Homo sapiens: one gene and its partners. The protein of the gene in region 1 interacts with the protein of each later gene in a pairwise test. Each region holds a gene or a part of one and is shown on either strand. Other genes may lie near its edges. The genes, in order: HCN1, SYNGAP1, ARID3B and SRPK2.

Region 1 (8,897 bases):
GGAGCTCAAGACCAGCCTGACCAACATGGTAAAACCCCATCTCTACTGAAAATACAAAAACTAGCTAGGTGTGGTTGGTGCATGCCTGTAATTCCAGTTACTCTGGAAGCTGAGGAAAGAGAATTGCTTGAACCCAGGAGGCGGAGGTTGCAGTGAGCCGTGATCATGCCACTGCACTCCACCCTGTGTAACAAAGCAAGACTCTGTCTCAAAAAACAAATAAACAAAAAACTAATCAAGTAACTTTCTATATTCATTTTTTCAGTCTCTGCTCATGTTCCTCAAACAACCTAGGTAGTGTAAATTTTAATAAGGTGCATTGTCTTTTTAATAAAATAAGGCTAAAACATTCTGCAAGGGTATAAGTGACAACTGCTCTAGAAATGATATCACAAAGATTTCTTTTAATTCTGTCAAATTTATAGATTTCTCAAATTCTTTTACGTTCCTAACTAGAAATAATTATATTTCTAAATAACAATTTTTAGACTGTTAAACATGACAATAAAAAAGAAAAGGAAAGATTTATCAGGTTATAACTCATCTTATTTGCCTCATATGTAATACTTAACTGATTTGAAATAACATCCCAAATGGTTTAACTATGCCATTTTCTGATGAAAAGAAAGATGAACAGAAAGTAGCACATGCAACCCAATGAATGCCATTATAATTTTCCCTAAAAGCTATTTCCAAATGTTCAATACGGTAGCATTCTATACCAACTAAAGAGATTAAACTGGAAAATTTTGCAGAAACAGGATATATTAAAAGTTTTCCGTCCGGAAGCAGTGTCTCATGCCTGTAACGTCAGCACTTTAGGAGGCCGAGCCGGGCGGATCACCCAAGGTCAGGAATTTGAGATCAGCCTGACCAACATGGAGAAACCCATCTCTAACAAAAATACAAAATTAGCTGGGCGTGGTGGCACATGCCTGTAATCCCAGCTACTTGGGAGGCTGAGGCAGGAGAATCGCTTAAACACAGGAGGCAGAGGTTGCGGTGAGCCAACATCGTGCCATTGCACTCCAGCCTGGGCAAAAAGAACGAAACTCCATCTCAAAAAAAAAAAAAAGTTTTCCAGTGCTAACTGCCTCATGACTAGACCAATTTCACACAGCATATATAAAATATGGCATTGCACATCAGGGCTTCTGCTGCCAGGGATTGCATGAAGGTAAAAAGGAAATAGCAGCACACCATTTACATGGCCATTCCTTCATATATTTTTTTCTTCAGAAATTATGGAAACGGTTAGAGTATGTACTTAGAGAATATTTAATTTTTCAAACAACTAACATGCCTTAATTCTGTTTTAATTTTACACTCATACAAATAACTAACTCTTAAATAGCATTAAATGCAGAGCATAACTTCTAAGCACTACATATATAGAAATGTTTATATAGCATATACAGTATATATACACACTATATATACTATATACCCCATGAATTTTACATATATATATATTTTTTTCTATTATAATTGAGAAAATTAAGGTCCAGTTACTAAGGTGGTGAAGCTCAGATTCTGACCCAAACAGTTCCTAATATTGTTACCTCAAAATAATATATGCCCAGTCTTTTTTTTTTTTAAGCAAAACAGCATCAAGGATTATAAGGAGAACATATAAGCCTCTCCCTTTTCCTTTTACCCTACATATCACTTTCCAAATTCAACCACCATAATTGTTTCTTTTAGTGTTTAGTTCATATTTCAAAGACAAATTAATTTATCAATTTTAAATACTATTCATTAGCTGCCAACTGTGGAACACAAGGACTTAGCTTTCTGACATCACCCAAACCACATTTACGTTTCTCCTGCCCTCCCACCAACCTAGAATAATTGCACCACAATCTTTATTTAAAACAGTCAACTTGTTTACATTATTATGACCAAATAACCATTAGGTACTGTTGAACCAAGCAAGGAACTGTGATTCTTTTCCCTTTTTTAGACACCTTTAGATCATTCTGGAGTTAATAAAGTTCTTTTGTTTATTTACTTGTCTCCAATGTACTCTACAAAATATGAAAGTCATCAATATATTGTTCCAAATGATCTCTGGAACACCTAGTAACATTATTTATCAAATGCTGATATCCATCTATTTGTTTTTCCTACCCTGAAGGCCTTCCTCCAGAACGCTTTGCTTTACCGCCCCAGTCTGGACTGGTTTCTTTCAAGGCTAGCTATTTTGGAGTACTCCTGGGACTTCAGGTTTCTCTGTGTTAGAGCCCATTTCCTAGCTTCTATGTCTTCATGTTGTTTGGTGTAATTTCTTGTTTTGCAGGAACATGTCATCTAATAACTTTCTAAGAAAGGGTACATGGGTAGTTAATACTAGAGTTCTTAATTTCTGAATATCTTTATTTAAATTTTGTATTATGGCAAGGTATGGATTTCTTATGGAGATTACTTTCTCTCAGAATTTTGCAGACTTTGTTACATCGTCATTTACCTTAAAGTATTATTCCCACTTCTTGATATGTAACTTTTTCTTTGAAAAGTCTTAGTCATTTGTTTGTTTGTTGCTTATTCAATGGTGTTGTAAAGCTTCTGTGTAATGATCCTTGGACAGTCTTTTTCTTTCATGATGCTAAGTATTCCATAAGTTCCTCAGAACAGACATTTCAGTTGCTGCTATCTGGAAAATTTTATCAAAAATGTCTCTATTAATTCCATATGTCCATTTTCACTTTTTTATCATTCTAGAATACCTTATGGTAGATTTTGACCTTATAAATTAGTTATTGGTTTTGCTATATTTTCTTATATTTCCTATTCCCTTTTGTCTTTTTGTTCTAATTCTAACGGGCTTCCTAGACTTTATCTGCTAACACATTTCATCCAAGAGCTGTTTTTTAAATTTCTTACTATTTTTTTCATAGCAACGTGTTCTTATTGTGCAGATAAAATATTTATGAAGATATCATTTGTGGAGTATTTTTTATAATACTGTCATTTCTCCTTATGCCATCCCTCTGGACCTTCTTTGGCTGTTTGATTTAGTCTTTCTCTGCTTGATTTAGTCTTCCCTCATGAGACTTTTCTCAAATGTCTGGTTATCTTTTGCTTTCAGTTCCATATTAACCAATGCCATACCAAAAATATAATCACAGCCTCAATGTACACATGCGGGAATTTTTGCAGAGTGATTAGGCAATAAACATGATTTTTTATCTGAAGACTTTGAAATGTCTCCCTTTGGAGGTATTTTCTCCAGTTTCCCGACTGAGAAAAATTGGCCTGGCTCCAAGCATCCTAATGTGAGCACAGGGAGTTCTGTATTCACTAAGGAAACCCTTATTTAATTCTGTTTTCAGTCTGGCTTTCCTGGAACTATTTCATAACTGGCATTTCCAAGTCCTGAATTCTTCTGGATTTCAATGGGTGAAGGATTGTGGAAGTGGAATAATTTGTCCATTAACTTCCTATTTTACAAATGTTCTTGAGATCTATATTCTCTGATGTCTCCTCTTTCTTCTACTTACCAATGTGTCTGTGCTTTTTCATATTATTTTGGAGTGACTTCAAGAGGGAGGAAGTATAAATGATTAGGTTCAATCCATCACGTTTCCCAGAAGGTTTGGAGAATTATTTATACTGGCAGCCTTGTTTCTTATTATGTAAAAGAGTTGAAGTGACAAAATTAATATTCACAAGAACTGAATTCCTGGCCCAGTTCTTACTATCTATCTATGTCACCATGTTCACGCTACATAACTTCTCTGCAGTTTCATTTATTCATCTGTGTATTGGGCAGGGAAATGTAATAGTTGGGGCACATACTTGCAGGTGCCAGTGGGAAGGAGATGCCAGGTATTACTGTAGGAAAAAATAAGAGCTTTCATTGCTTTCATCTGAATTTATTAACTCTAAGATTAAATGTTCTCATGACCTGCTTGGAGAATAATTCTTTGTCCATTCAGTCAATAAATATTTATTACAGGTCTGTTATGATGACCTAGAAATTTCACTCCAAAGAGAAATGAAAACATCTCTGTGCAAAAACTTGTACGAGAATATTCATATCAGCAGTATTTACAATAACCAAAAAGCAGAAACAACTCAGATGTCCATCAACTGATAAATGAATAAATTAAAGGTAGTATATCCATAAAATGGAATGTTATTCAGCAAGGAAATGAATAAAGTACTGACACAGGTAACAGCATGAATGAACCTTGAAAAAACATTATGCTAAGTGAAAGAAGCCAATAAAAAATACTATATATTGCATGACTTCACTGATATAAAATATTCAGAATAAGCAAAAATCTACAGAGACAGAGAGAGGATTAGTGGTTGCTTAAGGCTGAGCGGGAGGGCGGGAGAGGAGAGAAAGTGAGTGCTAATGCATATGGGGTTTCTCCTTAGGATGACAAAATATTCTAAAATTGATTGTGGTGATGGCTGCATAACTGTGAACTTACTAGAAAATATTGAATTGCTTACTTTAAATGGGTGAATTGTATGGTATATGAATTTTGTCTCAAAAAAGCTGTTAAAAATAAACCATATCTGTATGTAATAATTAGGTGATGGGATGATCTGTGCAGCAAACTACCATGGCACATGTTTACCTATTTAACAAACCTGCACATCCCACACATTTACCCCTGAAGTTAAAATAAAAGTTGAAGAAAAAAAAATGAAGCCTCTAAGAAAGTTTGGCAAGAAAAGTCTATTATGTGCATTTTTACAACATTGGGAATGTAAAACTGAGTAAGATTCATAAGGTAGCATGGTTTAAATTCCAGGGAAAGGACACATATAAAAATAATTATAAATTCTGCTGAACAGAAAGCCTAGATAGAAAAATAAGTGTGTGCACAATGATTAAATGGAAATCTAAAAGATGAGTAGAAACTAGTTATGTGGAGTGATAAAAAGTGAAAAGAGTATTTCAAGCTTGGGGGTAATGTCACATTAAAATCTTAGTTGCAGGAGAGAACTCAGGTTGTTCTAGGAGCTAAAAATTTACCCAAGTGGCTGGAACACAGAGCTGGAATGAGTGGCATGTAATGAGGCTGCATATATCGGCTGAAATTATGCAGGGTCTTGAAGCTCATAGAAAGTTTGTCCAATGTAGTCTAACAGTAATGGGAAGTTACTAAAGGTTTTAAAGAGCATAACAATATTATTAGATTTGCTTTTTAAAGATCACTCTTGTCACTCTATGTTGAATGAAATGGAGGACAGGTTACATTTTCTGTCCTAAAACAGCCTGTAAATATCATAACAGGAATGTCAACCTTGGAGAACCTACGTTATTCGTGTCATTTTAAGAAATCTGTAAACTGGAGGCAGTATTAATTGGTCAAATCAATATGTATAGAATCTCTAGAATGTTCATAGGCAGTCATTCCATTCCCTGAACTTTAGCCAAAACAATGAAGAGTAAGGTGCGAAGATGTTTGTTGCAGCACTTTTTAAAAAATACTGAATAACTGTATACAACAAAGCTGATAGTCTAAAATTTATAAATATTTACTAACTTTGTATGTATGTAAAATTAGCCTTATGTTTTTAGAGTTACAGCTAGTGACCTGAAAATAAAATTAGGTTTATATAAATAAAATTATAAGTTGTAAATTTAAAGCATGAGTAATGTTGCTTCCTTGCTTTAACTGCGTGGTCAACTATTAGACAAAATAGAAAAATACTATGAGAAAACTAACTAACATAACTTGAAAGAGTCATGAAATCAATCTTATCAAAGTTGGGTGAAATGTGTCAGATAAACACTCAACTCAAAAATAATCAACTTCTATATATATTCTTTACTTCTATATATATTCTTCTACAAAGTCCCTTGAATAGTTTCTGTAGCACATATATACAAATAGAATTAACAGAGCCATGAAGGTTTATTTTGCAAAAACATAAAATTCCAGGATGCACCAGGAATCCTGATTTTTTTTTCCTGTAAAACTAATGGTAAGTTGTACATCCAGATGCCTTCACAAAGAAAATTATTTTTAGAAGAAAAGTACTTAGAGAAAATATAATTTTCATAGTGCATGCAGACTTTTTTCTTTATTATCACTATTTCTACAACTAAAATATATAGTGTCAGCCTAATTCATAGTTTGTTACTCCTTTACACAAAATGATAAAATGAAAATTTGTCACAGACCCTGCAAATGCTCAGTACTCTTCATGTAGTGCTAATGATCTGCAATAATTTGCACTGTACTTACAAGAGACTCTATTTGAAAGTTCTTTTCCGGAGCCCAATTGTTGTTTCTAAATAATGAAGTGAATTATCTGCTAAACACAAGAATTATATTCAGAATGATAAGATTATCACCTGAAAATCATACTAAATGCATTCTGCTGGTTTCCTGCTCACTATAGGACATAGGTGCATTGAGTATAATAATGCAGAATTACAAATACTATTTATCTTGCTTTGTGGTGGTGATGTTGTTTTGGTTTGTGGTTTTTGATCAAGCAGATATAGTTGAATATAATTTTCTTAAATGAACCTATGATACAAATAATAAGTAATATATCTTTCCAGTGCATTTAAATTTCTTTCATTATTCAACAGGCACGTTCATAAACCCAAGTCCACATAATTAAATATGATTAGTAAAGTGTACCTCTTTACTGATTCTCAATTTATAATCATACCCCGAAGGAGGTTTAAAGGGAAAGTTGCTCAGAAAAAAATGAAAACTATCTTATAATATTTTAATAGTATAAATCATAATATCTACTAAATGCAACAGTGAAACATTTGCTAAAATTTAAAGTTGCATAACTTACATGTATACTAAGAAAAAGTAACTAAATAAATTCACACGTTTAAATCTTTGAAGAAATTTCATGTTGTGTCTAACAGTTGCTAGAGCCACTAAGAAAAATGTAATTGAACTTAAAGCACAAAAAGGTTCACCTAACATAGAAAAAAAATAAATTCTTATGGTTAATTTTGGCTATGTTGATATGAAAAGCAAATAAAATAAGCATTGCTGGCAGATACAGAGTGTGTTCAGCACAAAGATAACATAACAGTAGGCTAATTCGTCTTTAAACCCTAGAAGGTTGAATTGTTTTCTTGTGAGAAGCTCCTGGAAGCAAATGTTCTCTCTATTATGAACTGTATAATATGGGTGAAGCCTCCCTTCCCTAATGAACACATCAGTGATCTCTGATATCAGTACAGTTGTGGCTGCAATTCAAAGCAGAGATGGAAGAACGGATGTGACGGTATCTTCAGGAAGTAACTCCCATCTCTAGAGTCCTTGAGTACTTACAACAAAATAAGCTTTTCACACACTCATACTAATGATGAAAAGAAATTGAAAAAAATAAGAAGTCAAGATACAAAACTGCCTCCGTTATGAGGAGCAAGATGTTGGCTGGCAATACATATGGAAAGGAGCATTCTTTTTAAAAGTCCCTTTGTGTAAGCATGATGGAACAAAATAATGACAGAATCCCTAAAATGGCAAATAGTCTGGTGATAAATTCTTCCAAGATAAATTGCTTGCATAATAAAAATCATCCACAAAAGTATTCTAAATATTCTTTCAACCTATTTAAATGATTATATCATAACTATCAATTGGCTATGGAAGCACAATGCTTGCCAAGCATCACTTTTAAACCTTAGTAAAATTCTAGCTAATTAATATAAAATCACCATGAATTTTTAAAAATCATATTTAACCTCCAAATTAAATGTGTCTATGTGTTGTTCACATGAAATTCAATAAGACTAAGACCATACTGTCACTACAGAAAAATCGAGCTACATTTGTTTTTAAGTAACTATCCCTATTTTCCCTAGTTTGGGTGCTTATATACCACAGCATAAACAAAAACATGAGCTTGTTGTGTTTACTAAATTCTGTAGCTTCCACCCAGTTATTTCAAACAGTACCTATACTATTGGACTGCTTTTTACTCTCTGAAGGTTTCTATTGTCATCCTCTGCTGAGGAAAAAGGTAAATACAGCAACTCTGCCCTACTTACGCCAGGGGTAGAGAAAACTACCTGCCAGACACAGCAATAGCACTCTTGGGCTCTGGTGGGGAAAAGAGGCACTAGCTAGCTCTCTGAAAGTCTCAGTGGGAGCACAGCCTTGTCCCTTGAGGTAAGTAAAGTAGAAAGCTATCAGTCTTAAAAATTATCGTGAGCAGGGAAACTAGAAACAGTGTTAAAGTCACGACATGCCCTGGAGTAAGAACATAGTAAACTTCTCTGGCCATGTAAAGGTTTATTAAAAGTGTCAAGGAAAAGAATCCTCTGGATATCTTCATTTGTAATAACTCCCCACTCTTCATAGAAATTACTCTTAAGTGTCATTCACTCAGTTGTTAAATGATTAATGAACTTAAGTTTGACATTTTAGGAATTGTAGTAAAGCACCTCCCTGAAATAATCCTTCAGGAAAGGGCCTAAAGTAAAGGCTAGATCATGACCGCAAAAATTTCTAGTATCTGTTGAAAATTACTCACACATTCCTTTCCCTGTAGAAAAAAACTACCGCTAGAATTTTGTCTTTCCTATTTTTGTTCTTTCATTACATTATCTTGACGTTATAGATTTTAGAAAATCTTATATTGGTTTTGAGATCATACAAAAAAATGAAACAATAAGATGTAAATATATTCTGAATGTAAACAAGTACATGATTATTTTTGCAGTTTGTTTTAGAACACCAGTGTATATTGTAATTATGTTTTAAAATCTATTTTTTCAGATATCTTTCAGTTTAAAAAGATCTAAATAATGATAATTGCTTAATTTGTGCCTGCCATTTTCTTTTTTCCATTTATACAAGGGAAAAGTCAAATATTCCAAACTACTCCACACTGGAATTTAGAGTATTAGCTCAGTTTTTAATCATTTCCCATTTCTTTGAAATGGATAA
Region 2 (8,897 bases), on another chromosome or scaffold:
GTCCATCACCTATATCTTTCCCCCCATATGGTGTCCGTTCCTTATATGAGTCCCCCTTCTGTCCTTCCCCTATATCAGTCCCCTCTCTGGTGTTCATTGCCTCTCTCTTATCTCTTTTCTATGTGGTCGCTCCCTTATATCTCTATCACTTCTTTACTAGTCCGTCTTGACCCCTTCTCATAGCCTCCGCATTAGGTCTGCCTCCTTTGCTCTGACACATGTCCAGTCGAGCCCTTCAGGTGTATTCCCTTGCCCCTGGGCATTTACCATCATTTCTGCCTCCTTTTCTATCTACTCCTATTATTTGTCTCCCAGACCATTCCTTGTCACCACAAGTCTGTGCCTACCCACTTTCCCTTAATACCTCAACTCTTATTATCATTTCTCTTTTCTTGTCTCCTCTACTTATTGGGGTGTTGGAGATTTGGGGTACAAAGACACAGGTTTTGATGATTAGAACAAGGGATCCCCATCTCAGCCCTTGAGGGATTTCTCATCCTAGTAAAAATTTCCCGTTTCTCAGCCATGTTGCTCTGCCTCTTGCATCTGCCTCCCAGAATCATTCTTCACCAAGTCCAGACAGTATGTGTGTGTGTGTTTCTAGAGTTGTTCCTAAGTTCCCTGCTGCCAGGAGAAAGATGCCCTCTGAAGTCTAACCCGCCTCCCTTGGCTGCAGCCTGAACCAGCCCTTTCCCCAAATGCTTATGTGTATCAACAGATTTCTCCTCTGGGTATACCAAGTGTCTAAGTGCGGTGGGCATGTTGCCTGCAATGTCTGTAGTTTCAGAGGCTAGGTATTGGTGATCTCTGTATCTAGAGAACATTAGTTAGTCTCTGAGATGGGTTGAGATAGAGTTTCAAAGTATGTGGTTTCTAAATGGTGGACATTCTGAGGGTTCATCGCTCACTGTGATCTGGAGGTTGGGTAAATTTGAGAGACATATTTATAGACAGAAAAGGGCTGAATTTGCAAAACTCTGCTACTCAGTGCATTCTGTTGGAATGAAGCTCAAAGACCAGTTCTCCTGCAGTATACTCATGGTTATCCCATAAAGGTGACAGAGTTTGATCTTTTTTCCATCTAAAATCTGATACCTTAAGCCTAATTTCTAGCTCTTTGCTGTCGCCAATGTGACATCTCTCTTACTTCAATAGGGCCTGTGTGGCATTGGGGTTTAAAGGAGAGGCAGTTTGCAGGGAGAGCGGCATGGCAAGAACAACAGAGCTGGGGAAGGAGGACCCTGGTCTCATCTCAGCCATAGGCGACACTTGGTCTACTGTTCTCTCTTCTCAAAGTTTTGTTCCCATCTCCAGCTCTTGTCTTTGGAGGCCCCTCTGTGTCACCAGGCCTGGATATTCCATTCTTTCCCCCTGACATCTTTCTTCCTCAAGCTCCTCACTGTGCCTTGAGAAGGCTCCTGACCTATGGAGTGGCTTCCATCCTGTCCACTGAGACTAGGTGGGGTGAGGTGGTGGGGGCAGTGTTGAATCTCTGGGCACTGAATGGGAGAAGAGATAAATTTGGTCTCTACTTGTCCAAACAAGGGCATATTTCCCACCTTCTGCCCTGGGGCCTCCACAGCCAGATGCCGACAAAAGCCATCTTCTCCTTACCACCAGAAGAACCAGAACTTTCCCTAAAGGATGAGCAGGGTTGAACTAGGGGAGGAGGGCACAGAGGAGGGAAGAGTTGGGAGGGGAGGCCCTCTCATGTCTCTGACTGTGAACAGGTAAGCTCCCCGACTTCTTCTTTTCTAGATATTTAGCCCTCAGAATCTCATGATCCCAATGTTCCTACACACACACCCCATCCTTCTTTCCCACAGCCATGTAGCTTTCCTCATACTCTTTTATAGAGGGGTGGTGCCACCTTCCAAGTCCTTGTCTTCTGCAGCTATTTGGATGCCTTCCTCTACCCAGATATCTGACACCAACTTCTCTGTTTTTCTCCTGCCAATTTTGCGGCACCTCTACCTTATTTTCCTGAAGTAGATGGAGAGCTCCTTCATCTTTCTCTGCCCCCAAACGTGTACCTTCTCTGTCATATAATTCCCATCCCTGAACCTCTGCATTTCTTCCCCCAAGTCTCCAGAGCCTTCTGTGATGTGATCCTCTCCTCTTTTCCCCTTTGTATAAATGCTTGTCTTGTGTTCCTTTAGAGTTGCCAGGTGTCTCACTTTCAACTGTGATCTCCTGAAGGCCGGTAGGGTCCCCTTCTCACTTTGTGGACTCTCTTCTTGCCATTTTAGGCCTCTGCTTCCAAATGCATAGAGCCTCCCTTACTGTTTCTGTGTGTCTCTGTCCTCCAGATGTACGGGGACCCTCTATGCACCGAACCCAATACGTTCATTCCCCGTATGATCGTCCTGGTTGGAACCCTCGGTTCTGCATCATCTCGGGGAACCAGCTGCTCATGCTGGATGAGGATGAGGTGAGTGTGGTGAGAAGGCTGGGAAAACGCATGTGGGAGAATGGGGAGAGTCCTCATTAGTGAAGGGGAGAGAGACACAAAGAAGGCAGACAAAGAAGAAACATTTGCAAATGGCAGGAGGGTGGCCATTGAGACTTGGGTTGGAGTGTGACAAGAGGGGTAGTCATTCTCTCATCTTGGGCAGGGAGTCTTTGAGGGTTATGAGCTGTGTTGGGGAGGAGATGTGGTTCTGAAGATTTCGGGGGTGGGGAGGCTCCTGTTTTCACACTGTCCATATTGTAGGATAGGTTAGAATGGGGAAGGGGAACTGAAGGGTTTGGAGAAGGGGTGAAGACATGGAAGGCCCTCCCAACCAAAGCAATCCTCAGGACCCCTCTCTGCTTTGCCCACTGAGCAAGACTCCCAGTCCTTTCTCCATCAGGGGGCAGAGTGCAAGAAGAGAAATTGCAGGACGCAGAGAAAAGGCAGGGGATAGAGGAGGTTTTAGGTAGCTGGAGGATACTGGGAAAGAAGACTGAGGTCAGTGGATCTTGGCATGATGGGGTGAAGACTGGGAGAGTGATTGAGATCAAGGTTTAGAGAGACACTGAGAGGGCTTCTGCAAGGGAGTGGTTGGACATCAGGAAGGAATATAAGGGAGGGGAACTGGGAGTATGTGGAGTTATCTAAAGGAGTACAAGTGGAGTAGGGGCAGGGACTAGCCAGAGTAAAGGAGATGAAACGGACAGAGGCCTCTTATGGGAGGTGGTGGCCAGGTATGGAGATCTGAGAGCCAGGGAAGTGTGGGTTCTGATTTGGGAGCTGGGTCAGCAGGAGTGTCCATTGGAGGAAATAGAGGATAAAAACTGGAATGGTGCCCCACAAGTGTGAGTCAGGGAATGGGGGTGATTTGGGGGACAAGCTTTAAAAAATGGTAGGGTAGCCTGGAAAACCAAACGTGGTGAGAGATGGACCCTGAAAGTTATTGGGAATGGTGTGATGAGGAAGGGTTAGAATTTGAGTCAGGGCTAACTAGAGTGTCAAGGGACCTATGGGGGCAGGTGAGAGTGTGGAGAGATGGCTGGGTAGACAGCTTCCAGGCCACAGAGTAAAGTAGAGGTGTTAAGGAGAGGATATGGTGACTTTGAAAGGAGAGGTGGCTTGGGGAGTCTAAGTTTTGGACACCATTGGGAGACATTTGAGTGACTGTGGTCAAACCCCTAGATCAAGGTTTGGAGTCTGTAGGAGAAATGGGGGAAACTGGAACCCAGAGTGGGGACTGTTATAGGGATGAAGAGGGAAGACAATGGATTGGGGTAATGAAGGAATGACAGAGATAGGGACAGACTGAAGGGACCAGTGGCCAGCAAGTTGAGGGGCAATAGGAATGGCCGGTCTGGAGCAGGAAGGGCGTGTGTGTGGGAGGAGGAGTAGATAGAATTGGGAAAATGAGCAGCCTGAACAGACGCAGGGAGTTGGAATTGGATGGGTGGTGGAACTGGGGCTGGGGGATAGTGAGGGGTCTGTTCCTGTGGCTCTTTGTAGAGGTGGAGGAGACTGCAGGGGTGGAGGTGTATGGAGGTAGGGATGGAGGTGGACAGGGGGAGCTGGGTGTGAAGCTTAGGGAAAGGTGATGGCTGAGGGGAAGAAGGGAACTGAGAGATGCTGGGTCGGGTGATGGAAGGAGATGAAAGGTGGGGGAAGGTGACCAGGCCCTCTGGCGGGAGGGGAGGTTGGGTCCCAGTCTGGCCGCAAGCCGGGCCGTGGGAGGGAGACAAGCTGTGGATCCTGATTATAAATGCAGCTTCTGCTACCCCCGTGACAGGCTCGGAGGGAGAGAAGGGGGTAAGGGAGGTGGGAGGTTGGGAGGAAAGCAGGGAGAATGGAGGAACTGAAGGTCAAGGGAAAACTGGATTCAGGAAGTAGCTAACTTCTGAGGAGTTGCAGAAGAGCTGAGTAGGGTTTGGGAGAATTCTCCGGAAGGTGTTTCAAGACAAATGGAGGGAGAAAAGAGGGTGGGACGGCAAAGAATGAGAGAGAGAGACTGGGGGAGAGAAGGGAGAGATCCAGTCACCAAGTGTGGAGGGGCCGGGGCAGAAAAAGTGGGCAGGCTTAGGGGGAAAAGGAGGCCCGCCCTTCCTGGGAGGAGGCGGAGGGGGGAAGAGGGAGGGGAGGGGCGGCGTGGGCCAGGGAGGTCTGACACACCCCCACCTCCCCTAGATACACCCCCTACTGATCCGGGACCGGAGGAGCGAGTCCAGTCGCAACAAACTGCTGAGACGCACAGTCTCCGTGCCGGTGGAGGGGCGGCCCCACGGCGAGCATGGTACGGCGGCCGAGCAGGCTCTCATGACCCGGACAGGCGCGGGGAGAGGGCTGAAGATGGACCGGGCTGGCGGGGCGGGGGCGTCGGGGAGCGGCGGGAGCTGGCCGGGGGCGGGAGAAGGCGGAGACAAAGTCTTGCTTCCCGAGGGGAGATGGCGCCCTCCTCTGGAAGGTGGAGCGGGACAGGGGCTGTGGGTGAGAGGCCCCTGTGGGTCCTCGCTCGGCTTCGCTCCCTTTCTCCTCTCCAGCAGTGAAGTTTGACTATTTTCCTGGTGCTTGTAAAAATAGTCTCCTTAGATCTTTAGCTTCCAGTCCGTGTGTTCCTGCCCCTGCCCCTCCCAGCCCCTGGTCTGGGATCTTGGAAAGAATGACCTAGTTCCTGCCCTCCCCCCAGACCTCTTCCCCACCCCTATGCTCCTGATTCTTCTTCCGGACCTTCAGTCCTTGAGGTCTCCTTTTATTACCCCCTGTTTTCTCCTCTCATCAGCTGCTTCTATTTTCTGCAATTGTATCACCCTTTCTCTTTCCTCCCTGATTTCTCTTATTTTCTGTACCCCTCTTGATTACCCCGTCCCTCCCCTCTGCTCCCGGCGAAAGTCCATCAGACTCCCATCTCATCTCCTTTCTGTCTGTAGAGCTATCTGCGCGGTCTGTCTCTCCAACTCTCTCCCTCTCTCCATCTGTCTCTTCCCCTCCCTCCCCCTTTCTGCCCCCCCAACCCCCTCTTTAGTCATTTAAAAAAAGATTTTTGTCTTCCTGAGAAGTTCGCTTAAAAGGTTTCCATGGGAACAGTGAGGGGAGATGAAGGCAGAGAACAGAGATCTGCAGCCAAGGTGCAGAGAGACGCCCTCAGCCCCCGGAAACCCCCTCGTCACTGCCCCCTTCCACTTCATTTCCCTTCCCGGACCTAGCGATCCAGGTTCCCCATTCCTCCAACCCCCAGGTGACCCCTTTTTCCCACCAGCTCCCCCTCCCTTCAGGAATTCAAGCTACCAGTTTCTCTCCCTTAGAGAGCCAGTGACCTGTCCCCATCCTTTGGCTCCTTCCAGCCTTCTGATAGGTCCAGGCCCTACTAGCCTTGTGGGCCGGTTTGGGGACCTTGGGTGGGTGGGTGGGTGGTCAGGGATGTGTGTCATTGTCATGGAAACCCCATACCATCGGGGTGTGTGGGTAGCACATCTCTGTGAGGCAAAGTCAGGTGGTGGTGGAGTGTATACAGAGAATGTGTGTGATGTCTGTCACATCTGTGTGTATATGTATATGTGTGTATGTCATGTTCATGTCTGGGGAAGATGTGTGTGTTTGTGTGCATGTGTGTACACCTGCGTTTCCAGGCCAGAATGGTCACATGCTCACAGAGCATGTTTATCATGTGTCCTGTGGTTGGCAGATCTGCCCACTTATTCCCCATCTTTCTCCTTATCCTGAGTCCTCAGGGTCTAGGGGTCTCTGGCGGGGGTCTCCCGTGTGTTTTGGGTGGGGACACCGTGTGTGTTTGGAGTTGAGGTGGCATGTGGAGGTTGCTGTATTGGGGTTCAGTAGGGGCTGGGAGGGGTTCCAGGGGCATATGTATTTGGGGGGAGGGCTTAGTGAAAGTTGATGGGGGTGAACGTTTAGGGTCTTCAGGCAGACATGGAATGTGTAAAGGGCATGGAGGATGTGCAGTGGACATAGGGGTCGTTGGGACCTTGGGGACTTGGCAATGCCAAGGTGTTTGCTGAGGCTGTGGACTCTCCAGCCCGGGAGAGGTCGCCGGACCTTTGAGGGGCATTGGAATCCTGGGCTCCTCCTCTGCTGGGTGGAGCCGCGAACCCTCGTTCTCTCCGCGGTTTTGTGTGTGTGGGGGGGTCCTGCTCAGGAGGGGATGGTGGGTGGCCTGGTTTGTTTTGGGGGTCCCCTTGCCCCCCTCCCCCGTCTCTCTCGCGCTGTCTCCGGGCGACAGGGCTCGTGACAGAGGCGGCCACGGCAGCAGCGGTCGCCTAGCAACGGCGGCGGGGCCCGGGCAACGGCGGCAGCGGCGGGAGCGGCGGCGGAGGGAGCCGTTCCCGCGGCCGTCACCGCGCGGCCGTCCCGGCCGTCCCGGGCCCCGCCGCCGCCCCCACCGCGCCGGGCGGCGCGAGCCGGGCCGTACCGCCCCCTCTCCCTCCGCACCCCGCCCTTCCCCCGCGCAGGGGCGGGGCCCCTCCCCCACCGGGGACACCCCTGGCCCCCCCGGGGGGCGGTGCGAGGTAAGGGCGGGGCCGGGCGGACTAGGAGCGCGCGTAGAGGGGGGGGCGCCGCGCGCGTGGGGCGGGGGCGCGCGTGTGCGTGGGCGCGGGGAGGGGGGTGGGGAAGCCGCGGTGGCGGCGGCGGCGGCGGCAGCTGCTCCCTCCGCATGTTCTCGCTGCATCTTCCGAGTGGGGGGAGTTATGGTAACCGGAGGGGGACAGCGGAGGACGGGAGGGTCGGGGACCGGCCTCGTGCGGACAGGGTCTTGAGCACGCGGGGGCGGCCGGTGTGTGTGGGATCTTGGAGCCCCTGGTGGAAGGGGCAGCCCGTGTGTCCGCGTGTGTGTTCGTGCCCATGCTCGTGTCTCCTGTGTGTCGGTGCCATGTGCACACGGGGGCCCAGTTCCTCGTGCACACATGTGCAGCCATCCTTGTGCAAGTGTGTCCTGTCTTATCTTGCCTCTGCCTGTTTCCTGCCTAGGGGGCTGTTGGGCCAGCCACGGGCTTGTGGGGCAGTCCGCGGCCTTGCTGGTCCATGTCACCTCTGACCCTGAGCATGCATATCCCTGGCTGGGGCTCACCTCCTGTCAGGCTTCTGTGTGTGGGAATGTGTGGCCCTATGAGCAGGATTTTCTGTGTCCCTGGTGGCAGGTGTGTGTCTTTGCATGTGTGTTCCAGCACTGGCCTGAGTATCTGTGTCAATCCCAGCATGGGTGTCCAGGGCGTGTCTGGATGTGGGTGGTGTGGCTGGGGGGAGTAAGTGTGTGAATGTGTTCCTTGGAATTCTACTGTGTATGAAACACCTTTGGGCTGGGCAGGTGTAAGCCCTGCTTGGTCAGTAAGTGGGGACAGAAAAGCTTAAAAAGGGAAGAAATGGGGTAAAGAGGAAAAGTGGGGAGGGGATAGGAGAGAAGGAATGAGAGAGGCTTGAAGAAGAGAGCAGAGAGCAGCAGGCCAGGGAGAAAGAATAGCTGGAGAATGGGAATGTGGGAGAAAGCCAAGCCAGACTTAGAAGAGAGAACAGGGGATAAGAGCTTAAGATGGGGAACTGGATAGAGATGGTGGGAGAAGAAGGGGTCTGGGAGCTGGGGAGGCAGTGGGGAGGAGAGAGTCAGGCCTTCTGGTAAAGTGATCTCTGAAAGAAGAAAGGGAAGAAGATGGGAGAAGGCACTGGATTCTTGTAGGCCTTGCAGGATCAGGCTTGGTTTTGGATCAGGGAAGGCCACTCAGGCATACGGGCTGGCTCACAGTGAGGCCTGTCATAGCAGGGACTGTCATTAGAGGTTCATATCCCCAGCACAGAGCTCTGTCTCCCATTTCTCTGCTCTGTGTCCAACCCTGTTCTTCGCCCTTCTCTGGCAACCTCCCTCCTCTGGCTCCCCTTGAGAGCTGCCAGCTGGGTGTGGAGAGGAAGAAAGGCCAAAGGGAAGGTTAGGGATTTGGAGGGCAGGGGGAGATTCTGTGGGTGATGGCAAGATTAGAGATGTTGGAGGGGCAGGAGTCCAAGCCCTTGCTGTGTGTGTGTGAGTGCCATTGTGTGTGTACACAGGGTGTGTACATGTGTGGGTGTGTGCACAATGCCTGTGTTACGGGTTTGTGTAGGTGGCTGTTATGTGTGTGCATGCGTGTATACATCGTGCAGGCATGGGACATGGAGACCCAGGATCACAGTTTGTGCTTTTCAGGTTTGCTGTGTGTGTGTGTACACGGGTGTGTGTTGTTTTCTCTGTACATGTCACTGCATGCAGCATTAATAACAGGATGTTCTGTGTTTCTGTCACTCTGCCCCCCCTTTCCTCTGTGTTTCTGCTATTCTTTTCCTGCGGCAACAAAAGTGTTTAATAAGCATATGTGTATGTGGCCTCTGTGTACCTGTGACTTATGAGTGAGTTCATGGATCTTAGTTCTTGGTAATATGTGTAAGGTTATATTACTTCCAAGAACCAAGCAAGCCA
Region 3 (7,309 bases), on another chromosome or scaffold:
CCAGCTGCGTTCGTGCTGAGTTCTTCATGACCCACTCCTTCCAGCGTCAGCTGGTGGATCCAGGGCTGGGTACTGAGCCGTACTGGACCAGTGGGCCCCCTCCCGGGATCGCTGGACTTGGAGCAGAAGAGTCCCTCCAGGGCTGAAGATTGGACACAGAAAACTTGGGAACTGTCAACTGCCCTGTTATTCACCTCGTGAAAAAAGCTGGATTTCTAATGAGAGCGAATGGAGGTGACAATTCCCAGAAACTGGAATTGGGATGGTGAGATTTTAGTTCAGCCGCCGGCGGTCTCATGCGTGGAGGTGATAAAGTTGAGCTTTGAGGTGGTCTTCAGAGGGAGAGGAATACCCTCTGCGGGCAGAGCTTCCTGGGTTCCGGGCCCTTCCGGACGTCAACACAGGTCCAAATGCCCTTGGGCTCCTCCGCACACCCTGGGTGCAAGAATAAATCCTTCTCTCTGCCGCCATTAGCCTGACTGGCTTCGGTTACTTCGCACAAAAAGCCCTTGCCGAGCAAACGTCCCCGGTGCTGCTCCAAAGGAGACCCCTGCCCTCCTGGAAGCTCCTCCCTGAGGCCGGGTATCCACTCGCCGCTCGCAGCCCTCGCTCTAGCTCCAGCTCCTGTTCCTTTTCCTGCCCACCCCGCCCAGTGAGGAGATCAGCACCCCTTGTCTGTCTCTGTGTCTGTCGGGGTTCGTGCCTCACTGTGTCCAAGCCCGGCTTCTATCCCTAGTCCCTTCCTGTTCGCGCCACTCCTGCTTGCTTTCTTCTCCCCTTCCCTCCAGCGGTGGTTCCAAACCTTCTCTTCCATAAGACCCTCCATTCCGTTTCCCAGAGACCCAGGGGTGCCCCTCGCAGGGGCAGAGGCGCAGCCTGTAGTGGATCTCCCTCCGCGCAGGGCGGGCAGTCTAAGGTCATTCCCGGTCACCCTGCCCCCTCGCTCCCATTGGCTCTGGGGAGGGCACGTGACTCAATCCTGGCCAATGGCGTGGCGGGGCCTGTGGCTTGCTGCCGGGCAGGCTTTTCTAGGAGCTTCTGGGGTAACGCCAGAGAAACCTGCTAACACACAAGGTTAGCTGAGAGTGAGCTCAGTGAGCTTTCCCTTTGAAGAAGGCGTGGGTGAAGGGGAGAAGGTTCAGGAGAAATCAAGGGGTCAGGAGTAGTTCACTCAGTCCCCTTTCACTCTGAAGGAGCTCACCTCTCCCCAGTACTGTCCAGTGGAAAGGCCACTCAAAGCAACTGAGAGAGACCTGCTTGTGTGAAGAGGTAGAGGTTTATTGAAATATAAACATTCGAGAACATGTAAGATAGAAAATAACCACAACATATAGACACTTGCTGCAGGAGGACATCTGAGGTATTTACTCACTGCCTAGGCTACCCATGTGCTATCACATTTTTCCTGGTTAGAATACATATAAGATGGAGAGCAGGAGGGGACAGAGCTGCCCTGGCTGATGGCACCTTCAGGGGAAGCTCTGCTTGGGCCAAGGCCCCACTCGTGGGGGCACCTGCTGGCACCCCTCATCGGGCTCTGGGTGACACCCTGCTGTTGTCCTTGAGGGCAGTGAGGGTTCACTCCAACGGTGTGGCCAGGCGAGCTGCCTGGGGAAAGGGAGAGGATCCAATGACCGGAAAGACACAGTGTGCTTTCCCTGCATCCTCTGGGTGGGAAGAGTCCATCCTTTGTGACCAAACCCCTGAGAAAGACATACTGGCCAAATGTCTGAGACACCTTCAAATGGGCCCAGTGCCAGCCAACTGGGCTCCTCACTGGCACCACGTCCCAGATGCCCTTCTCTGCCCACACCCTGCAGGCTGAGGCCAGAGGAGGTCAGCCCTCGGGAGATGGGGTATGTGTGTGTGTGTGTGTATGTGTGTGGGAGTGGGGGTGAGTGTGTGTGGAGGGCTGAGAGAAGACGCAGTTGAGCAGAGCTGCAGCTTACCGGGCTGAGGTATCTGTTTGTGCTCAAGCTTTTGATTCCCTTTCCTCTCCTACACAGGACTGAATGCGAGCCACGCTGCCACACACACCCACGCCACGCGCGGTGTCTCCCACTGCCACAGCCCCATGTCACAGTGGTGGTGTTCTGCTGAACATTCCAGGGCTTCCTCGACTGAGGTGAGCCGCAAGCGAATCAATTTTCTTTACAGCACAGGAGCTGCCTGCTCCCGCGCAGGGTCCAGGAGGAGCTGTGGAGTTATTCATCTCCTCATACCCTGGGGCGGCTCAACCTCTGGCAAGGCCAGCGAGGACCCCAGCCTGCCTGTGCCCTGAGCTGGGAATGCTGAGTGATGGGGAGGTGTCCTCTGCCTCCCTGGTCAGCTGGGGGTGGGGGTGTGGCAGAAAACGGTCTTCAGAACTGGTACAGTTTCAGGGCCCGACCCGGTGTGAGAGCGGGCCTCTCCACTCCACCTCCCCGCCCCCGCGATCCCTGAGTCGTCTCCCCTGCATGCCTCCACCCACCTCCTCACTGGGCTTGAGGGAAGGGCCAGAGGGGCCGGGTTACCCAATCACTTGCTTGGCTTTGGGGGTGATCTGTTTTCATTTCTTTGGTGCTACGATAAAAATTTTAAAATAAAAAAAAAACAAAAGTCAGCAAAACACATATAAAAAAGATTTCAGAGATGCAAATACTTCCTGAAGACTCAAACATCAACAATTACAAATCTGAGGTATTTCAATGAACCTGACATCGGCACGTGTGGGGATGGTGAGGCCAAGATGGCCCCATAAGAAATAGAAGAGGGCTGAGCTGAAGAAGGCTGAAGAAGGCTGGGGAGGACTGGGGAGGGCTGAAGAGGGCTGGGGAAAGGATGAGTGGGCTGTTTTTGGGAAAGCAGGCCAATAAGGGCAAGTGGGGAGCATGAGGTTTGGCGGGGGCGGTCAGAGAATGGTCCGTGTGAAGCAGGTGCCAGGGCTGGGCAGCCCCGAGGCTCTGCCTTCCCATCAGCAGATGCCCTGTGGGCCCTGGCCCTGAACTGCCCTCACAGCCTCTTCCTTCAGACTATTAGAAGGGGGATCTGGGGCCCTGAGGACTGATTCAAGACTTGTGTTTGAGGGACCCGTACCCCAGGAACCTAACAGTAGGCAAAGTGGGCTGGAAGGGCCCCATCCCATGCTCTGCAGAGAAGGGCATGAAGGCATGCTCTTGGCTCCTGGCAGCCCCACATGGGACTTAAAAACAGGGGAAGAGACTAGTGGCCCTGGGGTCATGGCAGAAGGCAGGGTCAGGGAAATAAATTAAAAGGGGAGGGAAATGGAGGGCCTCCAGCCCTGCGTCGGCTGACAGATTGTCGATACACTGTGCCCTGAGCTGGGAGGTGGCTGGGGAACCCTGGAGGAAGCTGGACACCCACAGACCCCCACCCAGTTCTCCAGGACAATCCCTGATTGGACAACGCTGTCTGTCCTGCCCCTCTAGCCTCTCCCTGCCCCCAGAGTACAGCAGGACCTGAATGGAGCCTGGACAGACGGACACGTCCAAACTCTCAATGTCTGGCCAAATGGTGCTCGTCGACGTGGGCTCTGTGAGATGAGGTAAATTCTGTGCATCAACTTCCTTCACTCTCGACAGGAGAGTGGCAAGTGGGAAGCTGGGTCCTGCCCATCAGAGGGACCAGCTGGTGGAGGGCTCTGCGCTGGGGGTGCCCCGGGATGAGGTAGGACTTGGTGAACAGTGAGAGCTGCTGCTGCTGCTGGCGCTGCTGCCGAGGCTCTGGGGAGCAGACCCCGTGATGAGGTGGACCACAGGCTTCTGGGCAAACAGCACACCTTGGTGGGTGGAAGAGAAGCAAGTGTGGGCAGAGGAAGAGCGAAGGGGAGGGCCAGCTCCTTTCAGTAAGTATTCACCGCTGGCCTAGCCTGTGCCTGACTCCGCTGTAGACACTGTGCTAGGGGGTGATGGGAGAAGATCCAAATGCTGTCCTGCCTTGAAGTGCTGATGGGCTGGGGAGGGGGACAGATAGGTCGACAGAGTAATTTTGCTAAAATGTCATAAATGCTCTGAGACAAGGTGTACCCAGGGTACACAAAGAGGAACACCAAGGCCAGGTGTGGTGGCTCACAACTATAATCCCAGCACTTTGGGAGGGTGAGGCAGGAGAATAGCTCAAGGCCAGGAGTTTGAGACCAGACTGGGCAATACAGCAAGAGCCTTGTCTCTATAAAAATTTTTTTTAAAATTAGCTGGGCATGGGTAGTCCCAGCTACTCAGGGGGCTGAGGCAGGAGGATCACTTGAGCCCAGGAGGTTGAAGCTGCAGTGAGCTATGACCGCACCAATGCACTCCAGCCTGGGTGACAGAGCCAGGTGGGGTGGGTGACTGGCTCCCTTCTTGTCAGGGGTTTGAGGAGCCTTCAACTTCTGACCCTTCCTCATTCTGAGAGGGAAGGAGTTACCTTCTCCTTTCTCCTTGACAGAGGACAAAAGGATATCAAGATCCAGGCCTTGAATTCCTACTTCCCTGCTTTCTCCATGGACCTAATTCCAACCCCCAACCCTCCCAAACCACAGCACAATGAAGAGGCAAAGGGCACCAGGCCCCACCTCCTCCAGGGGCCTCCTGTGACAGGTAGAGACCTCTGAGCAGAGTCTGCAGACATAGCATGACTGGTGAGCCCACTTGGCACCACTGCTCCTCTACACTCTGTCCTCTCTCTGAAGTGAGTGGCCCAGCAGAGATCCAGAGCATGCTCCCAGGAGGCCTGCAGGGCGGTGCTCTGAGGGAGTGTGGCCCTTAGAATGGGAGTAGGCCCTGAGGAAACACTCCCAGTTGTGATAGAAGGTGCAGTTGTAGGGCTTTCGCCTGTCTCCACGAGACACCTTGCCAGGCTGGCTGACACTCCGCATGCCCTTGGGCCCTTGGTAAAACAGGTGGGTGATGCCCTGGGCCAGGCCTGGTGGCCCCCACTCATAATACTGTGCTTTTTTTTTTTGAGACGGAGTCTCACTCTGTCGCCCAGGCTGGAGTGCAGTGGCGCGATCTCAGCTCACTGCAAGCTCTGCCTCCCAGGTTCACGCCATTCTCCTGCCTCAGCCTCCCGAGTAGCTGGGACTACAGGCACCCGCCCCCACGCCTGGCTAACTTTTTGTATTTTTAGTAGAGACGGGGTTTCACTGTGTTAGCCAGGATGGTCTCGATATCCTGACTTCGTGATCCACCCGCCTTGGCCTCCCAAAATGCTGGGATTACAGGCGTGAGCCACCGCGCCCAGCAATGCTGTGCTTAACAAGAGTCAGGTGGGCTTGTTCCCAAGCTCGTCCGTAAACCAATGAAATGGGAATGGGAAAAGGACTGCTGTTTTTATGAATATTAAGTTTTGTTTTTTTTTTTTTTAATTGAGACAAGGTCTTGCTTTGTCACTCAGGCTGGAATGCAGTGGTACAATCACGGCTTACTGCAGCCTCGACCTCCTGGGCTCAAGTGATCCTCCTGGCCTCAGCCTCCCAAGTAGCTGGGACCACAGGTGTGCACCACCATGCCTGGCTATTTTTTTTTGTATTTTGTAGATTTGGGATTTTGCTATGTTGCTCAGGCTGGTCTCAAACTCCTGGGCTCAAGTGGTCCTCTTGCCTCAGCCTCCCAAAGTGCAAGGATTACAGGCATCAGCCACCGTGCCCAGTCATGAATACTAAGTTAAACCCTTAGAAAGACTCTGTAAAGGTGCGAAATCAACCAACCAACAAAACACTGTTGCCAAATTAGGTTTAGGAAAAGATAACTGTAAAAGACTGGGGGGCAGGGAGCTTAACAATGTAAGCTGATTCTCCTATACTGGGGTTCCTTTGCCTGTGTCTCAGTCTGCAAAAGGAAGAGAAGAGCTGAATTACAGTCAGAGAAAGGCTGTGCATGAGAAGACCTGGGGATTGTGGGACACTGACTGACTTCTTCAATTAACGAGCCAACCACTGGTCTAAAAGGGTTAGGTGAAGGGTTTCTGCCAAAGTGGGAGGGACCTATCATCCTGTTAACAATCCACAGTCTACTAGTCCAGAGGACCACTTGACCTTTGCAACTCTGAGACCAGGAAAAAGGAAGCCACTGTGGGAGGTGTTCAGACAGAGGGTAAGAGGCAGGGCCAGCCGCAGAGCTGCCCTGTGGCTAGCTGCGGCCACGTGGGCCTCCCCCAGAGCTCCAGGGCCTCACCTGCATAGGTGGTGCCATCGATGTCCACAGACATGTTAATGCTCCCAATGCTACTCGTGGTCAGGTTCAGTGCTGCAGCCGAGGCCTCTGCTCTGTCTTCTGCTGGGGACAGGGAGACAGTGGGCCTGGTCAAGCCTTCCACAGCACTCCTGTTGTCCTCTCTGATGCTGCCTGGCCACCCCTGGTCAAAGCCTCACGCTGTTAAAAGGCATCTATGTAACCTTCTCCTGAGTGTAGGGTATGGCAGGAGATCCCAGGCTCGCCAATCTCCTGTTGCTGGCTTTTTCCACTGACCCAGTTCATCCCCTCAACTACCTCTGCTCCCAGAGAAAAGGAATCACAGTAGGCAAGGAGGCCGGCTCCGGCCCCACCACTCTGCACTGGCACTTTCCAAGTGACGGGCAAACCCTGAACTACACTATACACCAGGCCCAGGAAATCAGAGATCAATGAGACCCAGCCCCAACTTTGAGGACCCACCTGCCCTTTCTTTCCTTTGACTCTGAGTCCCTCAGAGAGAGGAGTCTACGCCCTCAGCCCCTCCCCTCCATGACCACCCAGGCAGCTGGCGTTTGTGGAAGCCTGCAAGTGCTGGCACACACGGCCTTTGGCTGGCTCACCCCAGACTCAGAATTCTTCCCGGTGAGCTGTCTTTTCTAACAGCCCTTTGCTTTGTGCAGGAGCAGGGTACCTGGCCCTGGATGAGCTGTTACCTCCCAGTTTCCTTCTGGTCCCCAAGGGCAATGGGGTAGGAGGGGCAGCCTGGGAATATGTATAGCTCCCTTCACACCTGGCTCCTTCCCACACATCTCATTCATGTTTGCTTTGAGATAGCATCAGGACCAGAATGGGAAAGAATGTGTGTGAATGGGAAAAGGGGCGTGTGGCTTGAGGAAGAGAATGTGGGGCACCAGAACAATGTGAAGAGGAAGGGAAAGGATGTCAATTATGCTGCCAAACTTGTGTTTCCTCCTTCTGTCTATATTCCTGAGTCCCACTGTCCAGCCCGGGGCAACTTGGCCCCTCGCTGAGCCTCAGGAACATGGGGTGTCTTCCTCCCAGACCTGCAGACGGTGCCCTGCTCTTGCCTACATCCAGTGAGGTGCTGGGGTAATGGCTGGTGGGGAAACGCAGCAGCTCTCTGAAGGCCTCTGGCT
Region 4 (5,945 bases), on another chromosome or scaffold:
TCACCTAAGAAGTTTATGACTCGGAAGATCTTATATCCACCTTTTCTCTGCCTTTGGGCAGTTCTGTCTGCCAACTTCTAGATAGCCAGCTCCTGTATCTGCTATAAACACATATGTGATCCACTGCTTGTCATTTTCCATGAAGATTTCACATGGACTACAGAAAGGAAAAGATAGATAGGACATTCAATTGAAGTCAGAGAGCTAGTTATAATGTTTAGCATAACCAGTGGTTCTCATTTAGTTTTTGTGCATTCTTTATCAACAAGCCGCCAAGAATCTGATAAAGCCATATTATGCCTAATACAAATGTATATTCCTTCTAGAACAACCGTTTCTGTATTATAAACTAGTTAGGCTGTTTTATCATAAGGGACACACCTGTAAAAATTCATAATCTAGTTTATTTTCCAACATAAGCAAAAACTGCATTAGACAAATTTCATTCAAGTATACTATCACCCTGATAAAAATCCTTTTACACTTAGGGAAGATATAAATTATGCCCTATGGTTCTTGTAAGGATGTTTCTCATAGAAATCACGGATAGCATCACCAGTCTACAGCCACTATCTATCACAGAATTTACATGGAAACCTACAGCCTCATTAGAAAAACTTAGCATGCAAATTTCATAAAGAAATTAATGAATGATCCATTCTACCTCACAGTGGTAATGTGATATAATGGTAATTCCTAAGAGGATTATGTGTCTTGTTTCCTAACAGCAAATGCTGTTTTGTTTTAAATTTGCAATGATCAAACAAATGCAGTTAGTATGTTTTTGATGAACCATGGATGAAAAGGGATCATTGATATTCTAGAGAATCAATCTATACTGTAGCTTTTCTCCTAAATCCCTTCTGCCCTTAAAAAACAATAAATGATTTCCTTATAATACGCCTCAATGCATGTTCTACAACTACATCTGCTGCAACAGGAATGCTGGTATTTAGTTTTAGTGACACTACTCTGATAGCAAATGTTCATTGATTCTATCATTTATAGGGCAATGACCAAGGCAATGTCTGGAAAAAAAAAAACCAAAACACTTTAATTTTTAAGACAACTGCAAGCACCTCAAACAATGGATTATTGTTACAACACTTGTTAGCTTTTCACAATCTAGTTATTGCAAAGGCATATGGATAAATGTTAATGGACAAAGTCAAAAACGAGGCACCTTAATGAATGTAAAATTTAAAATAAAAAGACATTCAATCCACTGACTTCTAAAAGAGGCTAAATATACCTCTATATATTACATTCTAAAATTGTATTGCCTACTATGGTTTGTATCCTGGAGTCTACAATTAATTTTAAGGAAATGCATAAACAAAACTGTGTGCAACCTGCAAAGGGAAAATCATTTTCTCAACTTCGTTTCATGGAAAGACAATGAAAAAGCTAGTAAAATTTGTTGTAGCCACACGTAAAGCTACCTATGGAATGAATGTGATCACTGTTATCTTTGAGCTGTGAGAAGTATTCTGCCCACTGCACTGCAAATTGTATATACCATACCTTGTGTTCTAGACAAGCATGATCATGCTTTTCCAAAAATATATGTATTTTTTCATTCCACACAATTAACACGTTTCTCCAATTTAATCTATGTAGAGCTTAACTTACAGCGCCCAGAGGAGGCAACATGACATGGTACTGAGCCATCACATTTTTAAAGGGAAATTGCTCTTCTTTAAAAGTACTTTTAAAAATATGCAAAATCACAAATGGGACTGCTAAATTATAATGCATATTTTAGAATGAGAAACATATCTTTTCTTCCTTTAAAGTGCCATATAGAGAATGACATCTTATAACCCAGAGCCACTTTGTTTAAAATCCAATGTGAAAAGACTGTTATGGAATGAAAAGTTTGCACAACTCCTTGGAGCAGTTAAAGTCCGCTACATGCAACATAGGCTACAAAGCACTCAAGACTTGGTAGCTTTTCTGAAATTTGAGTCCCCCTCCCATATTTAATGGAAAGTAACATTTACAGGGTGCATTTACATACACTATAATACAGGAATGATGTCCCTTTGCCAGAAGATAAAATTGTACATTTCCTTGCTATTTCTTGGTTCCAACTTGATAATTTCTTAAGATTGTAAATTATATAGTACTCAGCTAAAATATTTCTTCATAAATAGTTACAAAACCTGCCAAAACACAAAGGGGAAAGTATTTTTCATTCAAAAAAATGACATTTGAATGTCACACAACACAAGAAACAATGCTTAGAGACATGTTATTGTTTCCAGAAGAAAATGGTCAGTAAACTACTTAGCTGAAGACAAAAGACTACCCTTCCCCAGGATCACAGTGCACAAAAAGCAAAATGTCAAACAACAGTACCTCAAAGCAAAATAAAGGTCTGAGGATGAAGCCAGCTCACTTGTAATCCTGTTAAAGAATGAGAGTCACCGTTTAGGTCCAATGTACTGGGAACATTTGCTAGCTCAGAATGCAATATTGGTAGAATTTGCTAAGAATTCAACCAAGGATGCCGAAGGCATTCGCCAGCTGAGGCTCGTTTTTCTGGAACCATTTCTAACATCGGGATCAGGAAATCTGTAAACTGTGCAGCATCTTCATGGGGCCAGCCATACTTTTCCACAAGTACATCAAAGAGGCTCCAGGGCTTCAGCTTGGTGATGTGTCGCAGTTCTCCTACAGGGGAAAAAACAGGCCAATGTCAAGAAAGCTCCAAATCTGCATTCCCCATTGTTGGTCCAGTCAGGTTCTTTTCAGTGAAGCGGACAACCACCTGCTCAACACTTGTACAGCAACAACAAAGAACACCAGCTTTTCCCCACTAAGCAATAATCATTACATGTACATATGACCAAGGCATATTTCAAGTAAGCCTGGTGGATCTAAATAGAGGTTAATTAATAGTTCATTCACATTAGTTCTAAGCTTCTTTAAGTAAGTGGAGTGGGCTCAGTTTGCCCAGAGTGTTTTCTTTTCCAAAGGTTGAAGCAAGCCACTCTCATTTCAACCTGGGATCTTCCGTAAAATTTGCAAACTTGAGGCCAACCCAAATCAAACACCATTCATGTCTACGCATTTGTTGTAAGATCTAAGATCCTAGGACATTAATTTGTAAACCTTGAAGTTATACTTCACAAACTGTGCTAGCTGCAGTATGAAAAGTGTCGGTTACAGGCAGCTTTGGTTGACATAACAGAATGACTAACAAGCTAGTAAATGGCCTACGAGCTGTAATGGTCATTTCATAAGAGAAAAAAAAGGTTATTTTTAAGTCAAAACTGCAATAAAGGGCTGAGGGCAGTGGCTCACTCCTGCAATCCTAGCCGTTTGGGAGGCTGAGGCAGGAGGATCCCTTGAGCCCATGAGTTTCAGACCAGCCTGGGTAACATAGACCAGACCCTGTCTCTACTTAAAAAGAAAAAAAGTAGCTGGGCACGGTGGTACATCCCAGCTACTCAGGAGGCTGAGGCAGGAGCATTGCTTGAGTCCAGGAGGTCAAGGCTGCAGTGAGTCAAGGTCATGCCACTGCACTCCATCCTGGGACAGAGCAAGCGAAACCCTGTCTCCCCATAACCTTTTCAAAAAGGCAATAAACTGTCAAAAGCTCCAGATAATTTCACTGTGAATAACTCGTTTTCTCTGCCTGTTTGAAGTTTTCATAGGACATCCCACCCCTGCCCACAGACCTCCTTAGGTGCCCCTCAGTGCATCCTGAGCAGCTTCTGCAGAGGAAACACCCCCCTGTGCCCACACCTCAGAGCAGCCAGGTCTCGGTGGGGGGAGAGAGGCATTCAAGCACCTGCAGGGCACACTTCATGCAAGGACTGACTTCTCTCCCCTTTCAACTGCTTTAATTTAAACAAGGTACATTTTTTTCATGAGATGCATCAATAGATAATCAGTGCTCTGCTCACAAAGGTGTTCTCAGGAGGCTTGTTCTGTTTCACCCATTTATTCGAGTCAACTTGGAAAAGCCCTCCCGTTTAAAAACACAATGAAAAGGAAAGAGCATTACAGAAAAGTATAAGAACAAAAGGGGAAGTAGCCTACAATCCTACCCACAACTGCTCTTCTTTTGTGTCTATTGTGAAGAGTGTTCTTACACACTAGTATGTCTACAAAGTTGCAATCATGCTGTGCACAGGGTTCCGTATAAAGAATCTTTTAAGAGGGCTGCTTGCTAAAGGGGCTGAGATGTAAAATAAGCTTCTGTTTCCAATATGAGGACTGGAGCTAGAGTAAAGCATCGCATCCAGACTAGACATCAGGTCTGTGTTGATGAAGAAATGAACCTGTAATATTAGAGGCGGGAAAGGATCTCCTGTTGAAGGAAACACAGTCTCCATAAAAACAAAGTCTGAACAGAGACTGCAGGTTTATCCCTCTAAGCCTGAAATTCCGGCTCTAGGAATCCAGCCCAAGGAGATAAACCCTGGTTGCACCACCCCAAATTCATGCCTAATATATGCTGGCACAAAATTATATGTACTCGCAAAATTACGAAGAGCCAGTAATAGTAAAATGGTGGTTAAAAGAAAACCAAGGTAGATTCACTTAATAGTATTTAATATTACTTAACAACATGGGAGAAGATCATGGTACAACATTAGGCAGTAAAAGAACAGTCAAACTATGTCCTACAGATAATCACAAGATTATTAAAATGCTCATTAAGATGGAAATCAACTGAATCAAAACATCAGCTTTTGTTAGTAGGTTATTTCAATTTCCACATTTTCTGTAATATGACTATATTGATTTAGACTGTTGATCTCACCACAGCAACAGTTAAAGCAAACTAAGAAAGCTCACATGTGACTAAACCAAGTTCTCTGGGAAAGGGAGCGAACTTTTATGACATGAATCTATTCTATCTCAGAAAAAATACTCTCCAGGTTTGCAAATATAGGTAACTACAGAGAAGCACTGTGTGCTGAGAATAGTAAAGGAACCTATTTCTGAGGCGCCAGGTGTTAAACTAAGATCCATCAACAAGGCATCTTTTAAGTACAATCTTCCATGAAAAGAGAAGTTTTACCACTATAAATGCTTAACAGCTGCATAGTAACAGTGAGCAAAACAATATAATAGTGAAAGGCCATGAGAAACTATTCATCCATAACTAGGCATACTATAAACTGGTAAAAATATTCGCAAGGAGCAGTAAAATATCTAACTACTTTTAACAAGGTAAAGACTGTGCAAAGAAGCAGTCTATAAACAACAGTATATGCAGGAGAGTCCTAAACACCTATGGTCCTGAGCACAGAGCAGCACTGCAATATAACAAAACACTGAACCGCCTCTAAAAAAAAAAAAAATGTGTGGACTTTTTTTGTGGAAAAAGTTTATAATATAATGCAAAGGAAAATCAACTCACCCAGATGCTATAATGATTATGTGTGCAAACCCTTAAGCTCAGTATAAGAAGTAACCTTGCCCTGGAAATAGTTGATAAGGTTACTTAAACACAAAGCCCAAGCCCCCAACTCTGTATCTATTGCTAGGAGACACAACAAGAGTGGGCTCACTGAATGAGTGAGGGTCTCGAGTCCATGAGCCAGCTCCAGCCCTGCAGATGATGCCCAAGAAATGTAGCCACCTCCATCACTTAGAATGATAATTAAGAATAAGAGGGGAAAGCATATTTTAAAAACACATTTTCACCATTTGCTCTTACTATAAAAGTAGCACCCTAACAAGTTAAAGAAATGTCATCGGCCGGGCACGGTGGCTCATGACTGTAATTCCAGCACTCTGGGAGGCCAAGGCAGGAAGATCACCTGAGGTCAGGAGTTCGAGACCAACCTGGCCAACATGGTGAAACCCGATCTCTAATAAATACAAAATTGGCCAGGCGTGGTGGTGCACACCTGTAATCCCAGCTACTTGGGAGGCTGAGGCACAAAAATCGTTTGAACCCAGGAGGCAGAGGTTGCAATGAG

What was found.
Region 2: the proteins of HCN1 (region 1) and SYNGAP1 interact in binary tests that used the Homo sapiens proteins (3 or more experiments, as listed by UniProt).
Region 3: the proteins of HCN1 (region 1) and ARID3B interact in binary tests that used the Homo sapiens proteins (3 or more experiments, as listed by UniProt).
Region 4: the proteins of HCN1 (region 1) and SRPK2 interact in binary tests that used the Homo sapiens proteins (3 or more experiments, as listed by UniProt).

The regions. Positions count from the first base shown.
Region 1 is NC_000005.10:45,684,652-45,693,548, forward strand, and holds part of HCN1 (potassium/sodium hyperpolarization-activated cyclic nucleotide-gated channel 1), read right to left. Parts: intron 1-8,897. UniProt on the Homo sapiens protein: Hyperpolarization-activated ion channel that are permeable to sodium and potassium ions. Displays lower selectivity for K(+) over Na(+) ions.
Region 2 is NC_000006.12:33,421,168-33,430,064, forward strand, and holds part of SYNGAP1 (ras/Rap GTPase-activating protein SynGAP), read left to right. Parts: exon of another isoform or gene 1-1,730; intron 1,731-2,309; coding exon 2,310-2,431; intron 2,432-4,630; coding exon 4,631-4,736; intron 4,737-8,897. UniProt on the Homo sapiens protein: Major constituent of the PSD essential for postsynaptic signaling. Inhibitory regulator of the Ras-cAMP pathway.
Region 3 is NC_000015.10:74,592,080-74,599,388, reverse strand, and holds the end of ARID3B (AT-rich interactive domain-containing protein 3B), read right to left. Parts: intron 6,255-7,309; coding exon of another isoform or gene 6,252-6,254; coding exon 6,153-6,251; intron 3,779-6,152; coding exon 3,615-3,778; 3' UTR 1,258-3,614; downstream 1-1,257. UniProt on the Homo sapiens protein: Transcription factor which may be involved in neuroblastoma growth and malignant transformation. Favors nuclear targeting of ARID3A.
Region 4 is NC_000007.14:105,115,347-105,121,291, forward strand, and holds the end of SRPK2 (SRSF protein kinase 2), read right to left. Parts: intron 2,677-5,945; coding exon 2,492-2,676; 3' UTR 1,028-2,491; downstream 1-1,027. UniProt on the Homo sapiens protein: Serine/arginine-rich protein-specific kinase which specifically phosphorylates its substrates at serine residues located in regions rich in arginine/serine dipeptides, known as RS domains and is involved in the phosphorylation of SR splicing factors and the regulation of splicing.